2 separate regions of the Homo sapiens genome follow, and region 1 is linked to region 2. A link means that fine-mapping ties the variant in region 2 to the expression of a gene that starts in the linked region. Tissue or cell type: whole blood. Region 2 holds a variant in brackets; the other region holds the start of a gene. All regions are shown on one strand. Distances are between the middles of the regions.

What was found. PIP is the estimated chance that this variant, and not a neighbour inherited with it, causes the effect.
Region 1: GLUL starts here. The variant in region 2 is fine-mapped to the expression of GLUL in whole blood (TOPMed, PIP above 0.99).

The regions. Positions count from the first base shown.
Region 1 is chr1:182,387,174-182,395,279 of GRCh38, reverse strand. It overlaps GLUL (glutamate-ammonia ligase), which reads left to right and starts at 3,490. Exons shown (of 7, transcript NM_001033044.4): 1 at 3,490-3,601; 2 at 6,530-6,708; 3 at 7,988-8,106. The coding sequence starts at 6,543. RefSeq lists a silencer at 3,075-3,754.
Region 2 is chr1:182,140,246-182,148,351 of GRCh38, reverse strand. No RefSeq gene overlaps it. Among named protein-coding and RNA genes, the nearest start is that of ZNF648, 83 kb to the right of the region's middle. RefSeq lists enhancers at 3,457-4,124, 4,125-4,793 and a silencer at 4,802-4,978. The variant A/G (reference allele first, on the strand shown) is at 3,742.

The DNA of each region.
Region 1 (8,106 bases), 250 kb before region 2:
GCCCTACCCTAAATTTTGTGTCTAATGTGTATAAGGCAACCACACAGGCCCTGGGAAGGCACTCCAGATCCCCAGGTAAAGGACTTCATACTTGCAGAGTGAGAATGGATCCTTTAAAAGACAGAGAAAGGGCCGGGCACAGTGGCTCACGCCTGTAATCGCAGCACTTTGGGAGGCCGAGGCAGGCGGATCACAAGGTCAGGAGTTCAAGACAAGTCTGGCCAATATGGTGAAACCTCGTCTCTACTAAAAATACCAAAAAATTAGCTGGGTGTGGTGGCACACGCCTGTAATCCCAGCTCCTTGGGAGGCTGAGGCAGGAGAATTGCTTGAACCCGGGAGGCAGAGGTTACAGTGAGTGGAGGTTGCAGTGAGCCGAGATTGCGCCACTGCATCCAGCCTGAGCAACAGAGTAAGACTCCGTCTCAAAAAAAAAAAAAAAAAAAAAAAAAAAAAAGAGAAAAGTTGTTTCCTAATAGAGATAAGATTTGGGAGTAGAGCAAAATCCTAATACAAAGCTTTTATTTCAGGCAGCAGAACAACATTGAAGAAATACTTTTAATCTCAGGCTATTTCTGCAGATTTGGAACAAAATCTTTCCCTGTAATTGCTCTCCCACTCCACCCACCCCTTGGACATGGCAATTCTACTCTAAGAGAGAAAAATATGACTTCAAAGCACATGCAATGGAACCCCTTGTCAGCACTGATATGGTGTGTACCAAGAAACAGAAAAGTTCATGGGTTCAAGCATTCTAATGCTCTTTTTATGGTGGGGGTGAAGAATGGGGGCGGGTGGCAATTTAGGGAAGAAGGGGAAGGAGAAGAAAGGGCAGCAGACACAGCAAAGTCAAACTGGATGAAACAGGCTGTTTTACTTTTAACTTCTCTAAAAGTACAGTCTGGGTTTCTGCGGGTGAACCAGTTAAGGGTTTTCTTCTGCTTTTACTTCTCGCCTATGCTCAAGCCTCCCTGGTCAGTTCTTGGACTCATCTGCGCCCTAATTTCATCATTTTAAGTAAATGTGGGGCTGGCCAAGGAGGACAAGGCCTCTTGTTCACTCCTGAAAGAGTCAGTGGTCATGTATTATGTTCCTAACCCTTACAAAGCGTGCCCCTGGTCACATGAATGGATCAAAGCAAATCCATTTCCATTCTTGGAAAAGCAGCTCAAAGCACATGTTCTCTTGATGGTGCTGCTGTCACTTCTGTGTGGTTAACAAATATCATTTATTGAACACTCACCGTGGACACTACTGGGGGATATGACAATGAATAAACTGCTCAATGAGGTCAAGACATCTAGGAAGGGAAGCAGGCACTCAAATGGCAGAAATACCATAAGCCTGCAGAACCGCACTCACGCCTTACCATTCCGTTCTCTGTTATGTTTGTCATCCCCACCTCAGGGGCTGGTGGTGTGTGCAGCAGAGGCTCTGGCTTATGGTTCGGTAGTTTGGTATCTGGAAATGATTAATAACATCTTTTAAAATAAAAATATCACTTTTCTCCTCCTTTGCTCCCCTTCCTCGACCATTTAAACTCAAACCTTTACAGAAAGAGATGAAGACAGCTCACTGTGTTACCAAGGTTAAGTCCAGTTTGATATAATGAATGGTAAAGCATTACACTGAGTCAGAAAAGTTGTATTCAAAAGTCGCTATGGGGAAAGAAAGAATCCAATCACCTCAGATTATAGAACTTGGCCTATGATAATTATAATTGCTGTTTTCTAAACATTTACGATGCACCAAGGACTACTCAATCTCTTCTGCATGTGCTATCACAATTAATCCTTTTATGAGGTAAAAATGATTATCCCTCTTTTATTATAGACAAAGAAACAGGCTTCATGTGGCTAAGTGATTTGGCCAACACAAAGCTGGTATGAAGGGAAAGCCCAGATTTGAACCTAGGTTTACCTGACTTGCAGCCGTGCCTTTAGCCACCACAATGTAATGCTTCAAGGGGCAGCACTGAAATTTAACAAGGAATTTGTAAGGCACCTTACCCAATCCAAAATGTCACCAGTCTGAAACATCCCAAAAAACCCTGTTTGAGATGAATGCTGCATCTGTCATGTAAAAGCACTACAGTGTTATACACTCTTAAAGGAAAGGGATGTTGACCAAAGAAGCCAAGTTATGTGTGTGTGGTTGCAGGCAACATTTCTTTTCCACATTTGCGGTACAAAACATAACCAGAACAAACTTCTTCCCTTCCTCTTCCAAAGGCACTGGAAGCATAAATTCTTGCTCTTTAAACTGAAAGAAGCAATAAAATCTGGACACCATCAGGTAGATTTCAGGCACTAAAAATAGAATGATCGAGTAATAGTACGGATAGCAGTATCTACCTACCTACCTACCTACCTACCTATGTTGTGTCTCTAGGTACATTTCAATATTGTGTTCACATACACATTTTCCCAACCATCACGGCAAGCTGAGAGGAGAGGTATGTATTCCCATTTTCCAGATTAACAAGAAGCCGCACTTGATAAAGCAAAATCAGGGAGAATTCGTTAAAGGAATTTCTTGACAATCCCTGGACTTCAAAGGGGGCAAGTGAACACCTCGATTTCCTTTCAGCTGCTCCGGGGGCAGTTTGCACACAGAATTTCAAATCTAGTGGGCGGCTCCACAGGTCATTTTCGATGACCACTTTATTTTGCAGATGAGGAAACTTGGGCCCTGAAAGACCTGCCTAGGGTCTGGCCAGCAGTATGAGACAGGTCTCCAGACTTAGTTTCTACCGCCCTCCAGAATCCTCTCTGTAAAATTAGAGAAACAGCACGTTGATTTCAAATGTGAAATGGCAGAGTTCTGTTTATTTCCCCAGACCCAAGAGAGCCGGAGCGGGCGGCTCTTCCAGGCCTTGGGAACCCCGGCCTGTCCCCAGGCCCGCGCGGCACCCGCCCTAGCCCAGGCCCGCCCAAAGTTCCCTCGGGTCCCGCGCCCCGCGCTCCCTCTCAAGCTAACCCCTGCCCGCAGGAAGCGGGGCTCGGAGGCTCCCTCGCAACAAAAGGCTAAATTCGGTTTCCCTGGTTCCGCATTTCCCCAGGGAGCTCTCCTCGTAAAACTATTCCCCGTGAAGGCGGCAGGGCAGAGGTCCAGGGCGGGCTTTGCTGGGAGCCTCGGGACCCCGGGTTGGGGGCCGTGGGGCGGCACCTGGCGAGCTGGCGGGTGGGCGGCGAGCCGAGGCTTCCCGGCCTGGCGGCAACTCGCCCCTCTGCCCTCAGCCCTCCCGGCTCCGCTCCCTTCCCCCACGCCGCCCTGCCCCTCCCCCACGCCCCTTTCTCTTTCTTTCTTTCTTTCCCAGTTCGCTTGCCCCCACCCCAGCGGCGCCCGCCGGGCTCCTCGCCCAATGGCCGCGGGGCCCGGGACCGCATCAGCTGATCGGCCCGGGCTCCTGGCCGCTGGGAGCCAATCAGGGCACCGGGGGCGGCCCCGGGCCGCGGATAAAGGGTGCGGGGCTGCTGGCGGCTCTGCAGAGTCGAGAGTGGGAGAAGAGCGGAGCGTGTGAGCAGTACTGCGGCCTCCTCTCCTCTCCTAACCTCGCTCTCGCGGCCTAGCTTTACCCGCCCGCCTGCTCGGCGACCAGGTAAGCCCCCGGACGGCCCGGTGTCACGCAAGCGAGGCGCGCCGCCCCTGCTACCCCGCGAGGCGCGCCGCCCAGCCTCTTTTTTCGGCTGCCTGCCCCTCCAGTCCCAGCCCTACGCTGCGGCCTCTCCGGCCCATGCCTGAGATCCGGCATGAGTGCTCCTCCCGCGTGCTTCCGCCGCTGGTGGCTTGGACCCGTCGGGGCTGGCGCTGGTGGGGCGCGCCCTTGGCCAGGCTCTGGGAAGGGCGGGGTGAGTTGTTTTGATCTTCTTTTCACTACTTGCGGCCGAAGCGCCGCCCCTGGAGGCCGTTGGGCCGGCCTGCGCCCTGGGGCTCGCAGTGGTTTGTTTGCGCTGTGGATGGAGTGGCGGTGCGGTCCCCTGTGGAGCGCAAACAAGGCGCTTGGTTGGCGCGGGCGCCTGGCTGCCTTCCTCGTGGTGGGGCCTTCGGAGCAATCGTCCTGGTTCTGGCGATGGTTGAGACGCCTCGATTGCGGCGTGTAACGGTGAGCGTTGTTTGGGCGGCCGGCTCCCGCCTCGGGGTCCCGGGGGCCTTCCAATGTGACCGAACAATGGAGAGCCCGGGCCTCGGCGCAGTCAGTGGAGAAGCCGGTCCGGGCGGAGGCAGCAGCAGCGCGCAGTCCCTACGGCCTGCGCCCCCACCCTCCCCCGGACCCCCCAACCCCTCGGCGGCAGGGTATGGCCACCTCCGTGAGGCCCTGAGATTCGGACGGGGGCCCGAGGGGCAGGGCGCCCACTTTAGGGACATTTCAGTGGGAAGGGGCTGCTCTCAAAGTGGATAATTATAACTCCCTCGGGGGCGGGAAGCGGGGATCCTCCCCCAGCCGCAAGTCCACGAAGAAAGCAACGAATGAAAATTATGAAGACAACGAGAAGTCAGACTCCTCCGGGTCGCGCTCCAGCTGCTTCGGCTTCGTCGCCTACTCTGTGAACTCCGGGGAGAGATCTCGAGTCAAGATTAAGACCTTAACCCACCAACCTGCCTGTTCGGACACCCCCCGGGCCGGCCGCTGTCTGTCCCCTTCTCCATCGCCCTCTCCCAGAAAGCTCCGGTGCTTGGACCAGCTAGAGTCTGAGAAAGAGGAGAGGCGCGAACGCCACTCCAAAAAGAGAAGGGTTAAAGAGGGCAACCCTAACGATACGCTTGACTTTCTGTGGCTGGGGTGAGTGAGGGGGCAGGGAGGACGACCCCGGAGTTGGTGGGAGCTGCAGAAACTGCTGAAAACTTCAGAATCCATTTCCCCCACGTAAACTTGGCACCGCAGCAGCAGCAGTTGATAGAGTGGCACTAGGCTGCTGGCATGCAACTCGGCTCACGGAAAAGAGCAAGAGATCCGAAACTGAGGCTTAGGACAAAGTGTGCATGATATTGGTGGTGTAACATGTTGGAGAGGACAGCCGAGAAATTGGGTTGTAGGTTTTTTTTTTTTGTTTTCCGACAGAGTCTCTATCTGTTACCCAGGTTGGAGTGCAGTGGTGCAATCTCCCGGCTCACTGCAACCTCTGCCTCTGGGGTTCAGGCGATTCTCCTGTGTCAGCCTCCCGAGTAGCTGGGATTACAGGCGTGCACAACCACGCCCGGCTAATTTTTGTATTTTTAGTAGAGACGGGAGTTTCATCGTGTTGGCCAGGCTGGTCTCGAACTTTGTACCTCAGGTGATCTGCCCGCTTCGGTGGGTTGTAGCTTTTAGCGGGAGCTAAAGGGTTCTGGGATGGAGGTGGGAAGTAGGATTTGGCCGGCTGAGTCTTCTAGAGGCAATATTGGGGTGTTGGTCTTCCCCAAGGGGAAGGGTGGTGAGGCTGAGGGAGAAGCAGTTATGTTTTCAGCTGGGCAAACATGGACGGTTGCCCGTAGAAACTTTGCCACTGTACTTCAGAACGTTGCCCTAGTCGTTGGAGGAGAACAATGTGTTCCCTTTCTAGCCACCCTGGTCCACGGAGGGAGGAGGGAGAGAGAGAATGTTTCCTCTTCGGCTGTTGTGGCTTGAGAGTTTCTCTTCTTTCGGAGGTTTTGTGGTAGTGGCTGGCAGTTATTAGTATGCCTCATGGCTTTTAAATTTCCAGATCTTTTTGATTTAGAAGTGGAAATTTCCTAATTACTTGACAAGTCTTGTAGAATTCCATAATGTTGTGATTCTTGCCCACTATCTTAAGTGAGACTTTGCATGAGACCTATGGAAATTATGGCAGCATTCCCCTTAGAATCTGGCTTGAATCAGCTTTTGTGTAGGAAACTGCTAGCCTTCTAAAAAAATATATTGTAACCTTGTTTCATCCTCAAATCTAAATGTGTAATGAGTTTTCTTTTGGTGGGGAGGGGCGGTGGGTTTGAGTTAAGACCACAGCTAGGATGAAAGACAAAGAGAAAAACAAACTGTGGAAGCCAAGCCTGTTCTGTGGCTGGATTTTACTTATATTGGAAGAAGTTCTATGTTTTGTAAATTTGTGTATTGGTTTTGATTTGTTTCCTCTGATAGTTTAGTATTTGGATAGTTTAGTGTTAACCTCAGCTACACTGAAGGAATAGACCTTAGTCCTCACAAGTATAAGTTCTAGCTTGGAAGCCTGGGTTCTGCAGTAGCTGTGGAACTTAAGCCTGTGAGCTCAGGGATGCAGAGGCATTGAGTTACTACCAAGGGCCTGATCTTTTCTTTAGCAGGCATCTGTGTTAATTGTTTCAAAAGGTGGTGATCAGTTTTACAGCCTATTATAAAGGAGATTTTTGCCTACTATAAAACTAATCCCCCTGAAAGAGTGAGTAAACATAACTTTTTGTGTGTTGACTTCCACAAGGGAAGGAGTTGGCACTTACACTCTGACTTTTGATTCAGTCGTCCTTCTTGAGCCATTTTTGCAGGGGATCAGTTTGGAGTGGGCGTTAACAATGTTATTCTTTTTTTCTTCTCCAGAACACCTTCCACCATGACCACCTCAGCAAGTTCCCACTTAAATAAAGGCATCAAGCAGGTGTACATGTCCCTGCCTCAGGGTGAGAAAGTCCAGGCCATGTATATCTGGATCGATGGTACTGGAGAAGGACTGCGCTGCAAGACCCGGACCCTGGACAGTGAGCCCAAGTGTGTGGAAGGTGAGACAGCAATGTGGAGTGGAGCACATGCTGGGTGGGATCTGCAGAGGGGTGGGCAGCAGCCTTTGACTCAGCCTCTGGATTAGGCCTCTTTCTTCTGTTTGTAAAGGTTTTCTAAGGCAGGGCTTTTCAGACTTTATTCAGTCAACATTAAGCTCCTACACTGCCTCAAAGCAGAGCGACGATGGAACCCTTTATTTCAATGGAATTGTGCACGTAGGCCAGTGTATTGAAGAAAAACTAAGTCTGGTTTATGGAGAGTTGGCATGGGGCTTAGAGGTTGCCGACCTGGACATCCCCACTTAGCTGGCTCTAAGGCACCCTCAGAAAACCACTGCTCTAACCTGAGAATGCCATCTAGTTTACAAACTCTTAGAAAACTGTGTTTAATACTCATATCACTGGCTTCTAGATGTGAAGCAAATGCTCTACAATGGTTTTTAAATAGGACTAATTTTTAGTTGATGCCACTTTTGGAAATTCTTAAACTAATTGCGTATCCCTCTAGGAGCTACAGTTAGATTATAGTTGTGACCTTCATTTTTCAGTCTAGAACAAGCCATAGTCTTCCCTCTTCTGGAAAGGGGCCAGAGGAAAGTATCATATCCTACCTAGTTTAGGGTAGTTTACTTTTCCTTTTTGAGTAAGTGAATGATCATAATACAAAGCCTATATTGTGTACTTGCTATGTGGCAGATGATAGTGCACAGACACTGAAGATACAAAGTGAGAGTCTCGTCTCTGCCTTCAGAGAACTCAGTCAGCTAGAGAGACCAAGCAGCCTTCAAAACAGTGGGAAAGGTGGATAGGTGATAAGGGAGCATCCTAGAGTAAGTCATCCTGCTAGTCGTCTGTTCCCTCATCTATAAAATAAGGACATAACTTGCCAGAATACACTGGGGGCATAAGAAGGATGCAACACATTACCTAATGGAAGAATCAGAATCCTTCACTATCTCAATATTTTAAGTGATTGATAGGATGGTAGTGATAACAGAATGCTTCAGCTTGTCTCCTGGAAGACATTTGGGAAGGGAGTATCTGATATATTTCTTTTAAGGAATTGGTACAATGGTCTTACTTGGAACTCAAATAGGAAGGGCTATAAGATCAGGTACAGGTGCCAGGGTATACATATTAATGATGGCATTTATACCTTAATGAATTCCTGGAAAAGAGATATTTAGAGATGGGAAGGTGAGTGAAGGGCTGGCTGTATTTGCATTGCTTGGAAAGCTCCTGTATGTTTTAAATGTAATTTTCCCTCTTTTTGCCCCAGAGTTGCCTGAGTGGAATTTCGATGGCTCTAGTACTTTACAGTCTGAGGGTTCCAACAGTGACATGTATCTCGTGCCTGCTGCCATGTTTCGGGACCCCTTCCGTAAGGACCCTAACAAG
Region 2 (8,106 bases):
ATGCAAGGGGCTTCTTTGCTCATCATCTGGGTTTCCAGGTAGGGCTGGGCCAGCAGAAATCTATAGGGGCAGAACATCCCACCCTGGTGCCTTTCTCTGAGGCCAGGGCCCATGGGAAAAGCTAAGGCAGGGCTGTGGCCTCAGATTACACTGTCACTCCCACGAGGCCGAGGAGTTTGGAGAACAGGGTTCTGGCACCGAGGAAGGCCTCTGAATTCTGTCTCAAACCCATGATTAACACTGTAATCTTAAGTCACTTGACCACTCTGTGCCTCGGTTTTCCTCAGCCGTAAAAAGGGGAAAGAGTACCTAAATCATTGGGTTACTATGAGAATTAAATAATTTAACCCTGCATAGCATATAGTTCATGCTCAGCAAGGGGTCACTGGCCCAGACAGTACACCAAGGACCCACACATGTGTCTTCTAGTCAAGCAAGCGTTCAACCAGACTCAAATTTTATCAAAAACTATTGTCATTATCTGAAGCACATGGTAATGAAGTCGTCTGAATAACTAGTTCAAAATTGTTTTGAACATAGTGATCCTTGGAAAATGAAAAAAATATATAAGTATTTTTCTAAACTGGAATGTGGCAGGGAGTAGATTAGGAACCCACTTTCCATCACTTTCCAAACATGACCAGATTTAACTGGACATATTCTGACACTCCATCCTGGAGATGGCTTCTTTAAGGAGCAGTTGTTGGGCAACAGCTACTTTCATCATTTTGGTTAGAAACTAACCCTGAGTAACCAGTCTTATGAGAGAAAACAGTTAATGTCTTAAAAATCTTTCTGACTCCAACTCCAGTGAGTAGGAATTTTAAGTCATGAATACTACTAATTGTAATACCCTGACTACTGATTATCATTATAGCTAACATGTATTGAGACCTTACTAAATACCAGGCACTGTCATAAGTGCTTTGCATGCATTAACTCATTTAGTCATCAGAAATAACCCCCAAATTGGTGTTATTTTCATTTCTGTTTGACAAACAAGGAACTAAGGCGCACAGATGTTGAGAAACTGACCTGTGGTCACACAGCTACTCTGCAGGCAGCTGGTACTGTGGCTCCTACGTGTAACTGGCCCTAACAGACATAGCTCCTCGCTGTTCTCTTAAACTTAGTACGTGGGGTTGAATATTCCTTTCTTATGGAAAGATTACAGTTTCATTTTTCTCAGTGAGGAAATTATTTTCATAAATTGATTGGATTTATTCTACACACAAGGTATTAGAATCAACATAGTTTTTTTTTTTTTAAGTTTCTATGTTTCCATTTTACTTTTTTTTTTTTTTTTGAGACAGGGTCTGGCTCTGTCACCTAGGCTGGAGTGCAGTGGCATGATCCCAGCTCACTGCAACCACTGCCTCCTGGGTTCAAGTGATTCTCCTGCCTCAGCCTCCTGAGTTGCTAGGATTACAGGCATGCGCCACCATGCTCGTCTAATTTTTGTATTTTTAGTAGAGACGGGGTTTCACCATGTTGGCCAGGCTGGTCTCGAACTCCTGACCTCAAGTGATCTGCCTGCCTCGACCTCCCAAAGTGCTGGGATTACAGGTGTGAGCCATTGTGCTTGGCCCATTTTACTATTTTTATGCTTACTTTGTATCTACAGAAGTGATATAGGTTTTGCATGTAAAGTGAAATTATCACTTTTACTTCTGAAACAAAATGATTTAAGTCAGAAAGTTTGCTTACAGGAAAATTAATGTAGTATGAAGCAGTATTACCAGGTGTCTGTGGGTGTGGTTGTGTACCCTGAGGGTATGGTACCGCGGGGCTGGTATGTGTACCCTGAGGCTTGGTGAGCACCTGGTCAGTGAGCCGGTGTTTGCCTGGACAAGTCTGAGCTGCAGTTGACACAATGGCCATTGGCCAAACTGGTGGAAAGTTTCAATGACAGGTAAACAAAAGACTGAGGACCAGGAGGGGAACAGCCAAAGAGGATGTAGGTATTACAAAGGAGAATTTGGGGAACATTCTACTAACCCGATAAGTAGCCGTGTGTTCAAAAATGTCTTTTGCCCTTCCCTGAGCCAGTCTTCCTTCAAAATGTTAACAATACCACTGTTTCTTTCATTCCAAGAAGCTTGATCTTCACACCTGACATTTCAGAGATCCTGTGTCTTACAATTGATGTGTATGTTTAACAGAGAAACATTTTTCTTCTCCTTTCCCCCTAAAAGCTGTTATTAACTCGCTGCTGTGTCTTAGTCAATGGCTTCTTAGAGTCTAGAAAATACAGTAAGAGTGATGTACGAGAATACGTGGTTTTGAATGTGGTGCTTAAGATACATCTTTGACTTAACAATTGCCTTAAAATCCTACCTTAACAAAAATTTAGCTCTTACTTTCAATTTTGATTTGCTTTTGATTAGACACAAGTAAGGAGTGAAGCCAGACACAAACCCAGCTCTTCTCATTTGAAGTTCAGAATTCTTTCCCCTGCATTCCATAATTTCTCCATATTTATCTCAGAGGACTATGCAGAATATGACAGTGGGTTACCATGGAATATCTGGGCAAGGAGCTCTAAGAGTAAAACTCCAGGCCAAAGACAAAACAAGTATTCAAATCCCAAGGCATCTCTGTGAGATGACAGATGCTCTTGTCTGCTCTTCAGATCCGAGGGGTTTCCGGAGGGCCAGCAACCATGCCCCCAACACGTAGATGGCTTAGCTTGCCTAAGAAGGGCGGGCATTGTAGAAATCTGGACAGTTCTGCTGACCTTCCTCTTTCTGTCTCCCCACTCTTGATTTTTTATGTTAGTCCCCATGGCACACCCTCTTTGTGAAGTCTCTCCAAATGGAAGCACAAGCTCTCCCGAAGGATCCCACACCCCACAGAGTGATCTCTAGGGTTGCCCATAGCAACAGCTGGTACCATGGAAAAAAGCCTTCCTTTCATCCGTCAGAGCTGGGCAGTAGGACCCTCTCCCAGGACCCCAGGAACAAGGTCTTTTTCTAGCTCTGCTATGGAAACTTGGGTGACACACATCACCTCTTGGAGCCTCAGTTTCCTCATTTACCAAATGAGGCTGATGTGAAGTCATTTTAGAGTCCCACTGAGGACCACTACTGTGATTTTCCTTCACCAACATGAGATACATGTGGCTGGTTTCAGGCTCTTTCCTGAAGCAGATCTTAGTACTGGGGAGGATGGACGGTGATGTCGCCACTGAGAGTGATGAGAGAGAGCAGACCCACCACCAGCTGCCCTCCTGATCCTTGGAAGGCCAGTCTCACATCTCAACATTCCCAGCCACCTTGTTACCAACGCTTGTGGAAAATTTGATTTGGACAGAAGGGACTCCAGCCCCTTTTAAGTATACATATGCACATGCTTTAATTATTAACTGCTTAATGTTGTCATTGAAAATATTTATTTTAATACTACTCTAAAAGAGTGAACATTTTTCACGTATTGACCCACAGCTGATTTCTTATCTGCTGTTACCAAGAACAAGAAAGGAGAGAATAAAGCTGAGGAAGGTGGCAGGCTCGATAAATGTTAGATTGAACTGTTCTTTTTCAGTGCATGCCCTGCCCTTATCACTGATATTGCCATTTTCTACTTTCTTTTTTTTTTTTTTAAAGTGTATTTTGAAGGCAAATAAGAAAAGAGAGCTATGGTGTAGTCTGGAAAACCAGGGTGTTTACCGTTTAGAGGAACCAGAAGTTCATAAGGGCCTGGCTGGACTAAGAAATGACAGCTCAGCACAGGGAAGGGGGG[A/G]AAAAAACCAACAGCAGCAGCAGCAGCAATGCAAGAACAAAACATTTTAAGAGATCTGGCCAGAACTGGTCTGTACAAATCCCCAGCTTGGCCTTCCTCCTCCACTCCCCCTGGCTCCCAGGCCTGTTTCCCGGAGTAGTAGCAGCCTTGCCTCCCCTTAAGAAACCTGCCCACAACTCACACTCCCTACATGCCAGTCATGCACACTCGTGTGTGTCACACCCTCTGCTCATCCCCCCACCCACTGAAGTCAGACCATGTGTGAGGGAGGATGAGAAGCCGGGGAAGAGGAAGACAGCTCAGCTGGCTGGCCCTGGCCCCTGAAGAAAACAAGCAGAGGCAGGGAGGGAAACATACTGTTCCCTGCAATCTGATCACCTCCGTGCAAGCCTCTGGGCTACACACCCAGGCCCAGGCCCAGAGGCCACGCTAATGAGACCAGGCAGGAAAAGTGAGCTGGTGACTGTTCCTGGGCAGATTAGAAACACATTGTGGAGAAGTGGGGGCACGGTGAGGGTGTGCAGGGCAGTGTGGTTGAGGCTGGGTGTGGGGCTGGGGCATGCGGGCCCAGAAAGGAGCAGAAGAAGGACTGCTGTCTTTCTGAGCTCTGATTCCAGCTCCTGGGGTGGCCCCCTGGCAGCTGCTGAGGCCTCACAGTGAGAAATCTGGAACAACAAAGGCTCTGGGACAAAAGACTCTCTGGCCAGAGGGGCTGCTGCTTTACAGGGGCCAAAAGCTTCACTTCTGAGGGGCACGTGGGTCCACCAGTGTGGGAGGCTGCAGGCTGAGAGGCAAATGGGGTTTATTGAGGAAAGGGAACAGATGTTTATTGGGCATTTGCTGGGTGCCCCCATTAAGCTAGGCTCTTTTTATGTATTTCACTGTGTTTGAGATCACTGTGAAATCCTCACTGCATCGGAAAATGGGAAGCAAATAGCTTTTTTCTTTTTATTAGGTCAGTGACACCTAGAGTTCGCCCAATATCACATCAGTGCCATTTGTTTGAAAAGTTAACCAGAGGCCAGCTGGGATTTTTGTCACTAGGAAAACAATGTAGCATGCGCTTCTTTAGCTTCCAGTCCAGGCAAGGACCTTCGGGGGTGTGAGGATGGAAGTATGTCTTCATGCTTTCTCCTGTGAGCCGCCAACCCACAGAACTGCTGGACCCTCAGCCCTTCAAATCCATCCTCCGGGAAGGTGCCTCTCAAACCTGCAGGGCCACCGCTGAAGTTCTCCCACGGACTCTACTCTAGCGCCCTCTGGTGGCCACCACTGCCAAGCCTGGTTGACTTGACTGGGAATTTCTGGTTAATAGCAGCTACGTTAATATCACTTAGCCCAGCTTTGTGAAGGTTCACTTGTGCTTTTACTTCACCTCTGATTTCTGCGTTATCATTACTCTTTCCATGTTTCCACAGCCTTTGTCAGTTCTCTGCTGCTTCATCTACGTTATTTTCATGGGGACCTGTGTTATTTTCATGGGAACCCCAAAATCAGGGAGATGTTTTCTTACCAAGATCTTTGTTTTGTACTATATTGCCAGTGGACCAACTTCGTTTTATTGGAATTTTTTTTTTTATTTTCTGGAGGATCTTTCTCCCTTCCTCCCCTTAGGAATTCAGGACACATTTCTGAAAGACTGGTTTTACTATGTGAGAAGCACAATGTTGTATACTATTTGAATTTGAGCTTCCCTTGTCCAGGGACGGAGTGTGGGCATGCCACCTCTGTTCAGTTATGGGGTGAGTTTCTTGGCCGCCTGGGACCCCTGCCTCCCGCCCAAGAATGCAGGTGAGAGCGTTTGCCCCTGGTTTTGACCAGGATGCCCAGTCCTGGTGTCTGAATTCCACCCATGAAGCCTGACCAAGCACAGTGGGAAAATCAGCCTATGGCCAATGGACATGGAGGCCAAGTTTGAGGGAGAGGGAGTTTGCCCAGAGTGGCAGCTGCAGATATGATCTGAAGGGTAAATGCTCACTGCAAAACAGGAGGGGAGCCAAGGTCAGAACCAGAGAGGCAGGGTCAGGCAAAGGGCATAGAGAAGAGCAAGAAGCTAGAGAGAGGAGAGGAGGCACACACACAGTTGGGACCAAAGAGGCCAGGTGAGATCTGGGAGGGGATGGTGAAGAAGCACAAGGCAAGGATGCCAGGGCTCTCATCAGGGGCCTGCTGTGTGTGGCATGGGTCTAAGTGGGTAAACCACAAGTCTGCAGATCTGACCTAGTTCACAGAGCCAAATGTACTCTCCAGATGTCAGGTTACTGTTTCTCCAGGGAGGCCCGTCAAGACCACAGGTAAATAGAATCCCCAGTAAGCCAGCCCCATGGCACAATTCCATGGATATAGAGCATGGGTATCTCTGGGGCCTTTGTCACACGAGTGTAGCTGGTGGATTAGCAGGGCCTTTATTTATGTCGGGCTTCATTTACTTGTTAATTTGTTCTTTAATCATTTATTCACTTCTATTTGACCAATGTTTTCAGGTGTCTACTGATGTTCTAAGTAAAATCCTGGGTAATGGAGCAGAAAGACAAATAAGATATGGTTTTGACTATTGTAAAGTCTGGATTTTCTGATTCAAAATTCAGTATCCCAGCCAGGCATGGCGTCTCATGACTGTAATCCCAGCACTTTGGGAGGCTGAGGTGGGCAGATACTTGAGGTCAGGAGTTGGCCAAGACTAGCCTGGCCAACATGGGGAAACCTGGTCTCTTTTAAGAATACAAAAATAGGGGCCGGGTGCTGTGGCTCATGTCTTAATTCCAACATTTTGGGAGGCCGAAGTGGCCAGATCACCTGAGGTCAGGAGTTCAAGACCAGCCTGGCTAACATGGTGAAACCCCCATCTCCACTAAAAAATACCAAAAAATTAGTCAGGCATGGTGGCAGACACTTGTAGTCTCAGCTACTTGGGAGGCTGAGGCAGGAGAATTGCTTGAACCCAGGAGGCAGAGGTTGCAATGAGCCAAGATCACGCCATTGCACTCCAGCCTCAGCGACAGAGCGAGGATCCGTCTCAAAAAAAAGAAAAAAAAGAAAAAAAAAGAAAAAAGGCTGGGTGTGGTGGCACATGCCTATAATCTCAGCTACTCAGGAGGCTGAGGCATGAGAATCACTTGATCCCGGGAGCCGAAGGTTGTAGTGAGCCAAGATCATGCCACTGCACTCTATCCTGGGTGACAGAGCAAGACTCTATCTCAAAAAAAAAAAAAAAAAAAAAAAAAAAAAGAAAGGAATCTCTGTAGTCTCTTTGGCTAATCTCCAAAATCCTGCTTTAGGCTCCCCAAAGCCAAACCTTTGCCAAACCTTTTATTTGAAGCTGAGGTGGCAAAAGGATAACCACACAAATTCCTTGAGCTCTGCAGGTAAACAGCTAGGTCCAGGGAGGCTACAGGGTGACCTCACCCAGCCTCAGGTCATAGGCTTATAGTAAGCCACAGCTGCAGGTATTATCTGCACCTTAGAGAATTTCTCCAGGCTTCACCACCTGAACTCTGCTACAAACCCTTCCCTTCTCTGTGCTGTTTTCCCTGGATCATGATCCTAGAGTCTCCTTGCCTAGGTCCTCTGCTTTGATGATGAATCTCTGGAATGTTGCCCATGAATTTAACTTCCATTTTTCCCTTGGATCCCTCCCTCACCTCCATGCACTACATCCCTCTGCAAGATTCCTGGAGCCCCAGCATCTCCGGTTTCTAAGATACAGCATCCCAGCCTCTGTCTAGCTCCTAGGGTTCCTGCTTGTTTAGAGAAAAGATCAGGGTTGGGTTCTACAGCCTGAGATGAAACTTGGCTGTTTCCACCCATTGCAACACAGGACCCGAGAGCCAAGAAGGATGAGAACAAAGTAAAAGTTAGTTAGGAACAGGTGAAGGAGCTGGGTTTTTGGTAATGGTAGCTAAGGCAAGCTGGGATTTTCAGTTTCTCTCTATGGGCCAGCAATCCTGAGTGCTTCAGATTGATTTAAAGGGTCAGAAATAAGAAAGGCAGATGGTTGTCAGCCTTGGTTGCACCTTAGGATCACCAGGAGAGCTTATAAAGAAAACCATGCAAACTCCAAGTAAACATGCTAGAATGCAATTTATGGTGGTAGATCAGCATTTGATGTCACTTGTTCAGGATTCCAGTGCTGAATCAGAATCTGAGGCTGCATCTGAGATAACATCACTGGAGTATAAGCCAAGGGCAGCAATGATCCCATCTCATGTGCCGATTCTGATTAATCTACAGTGGCTCCCTAGAACACTGTACTAAAAGAAGTTGGGAGGCTTGGTCTGTGCTGAATGAAAAAGAATGCAATGATCGGCTGGGCACAGTGGTTCACGCCTGTAATCCCAGCACTTTGGGAGGCCGAGGAGGGCAGAT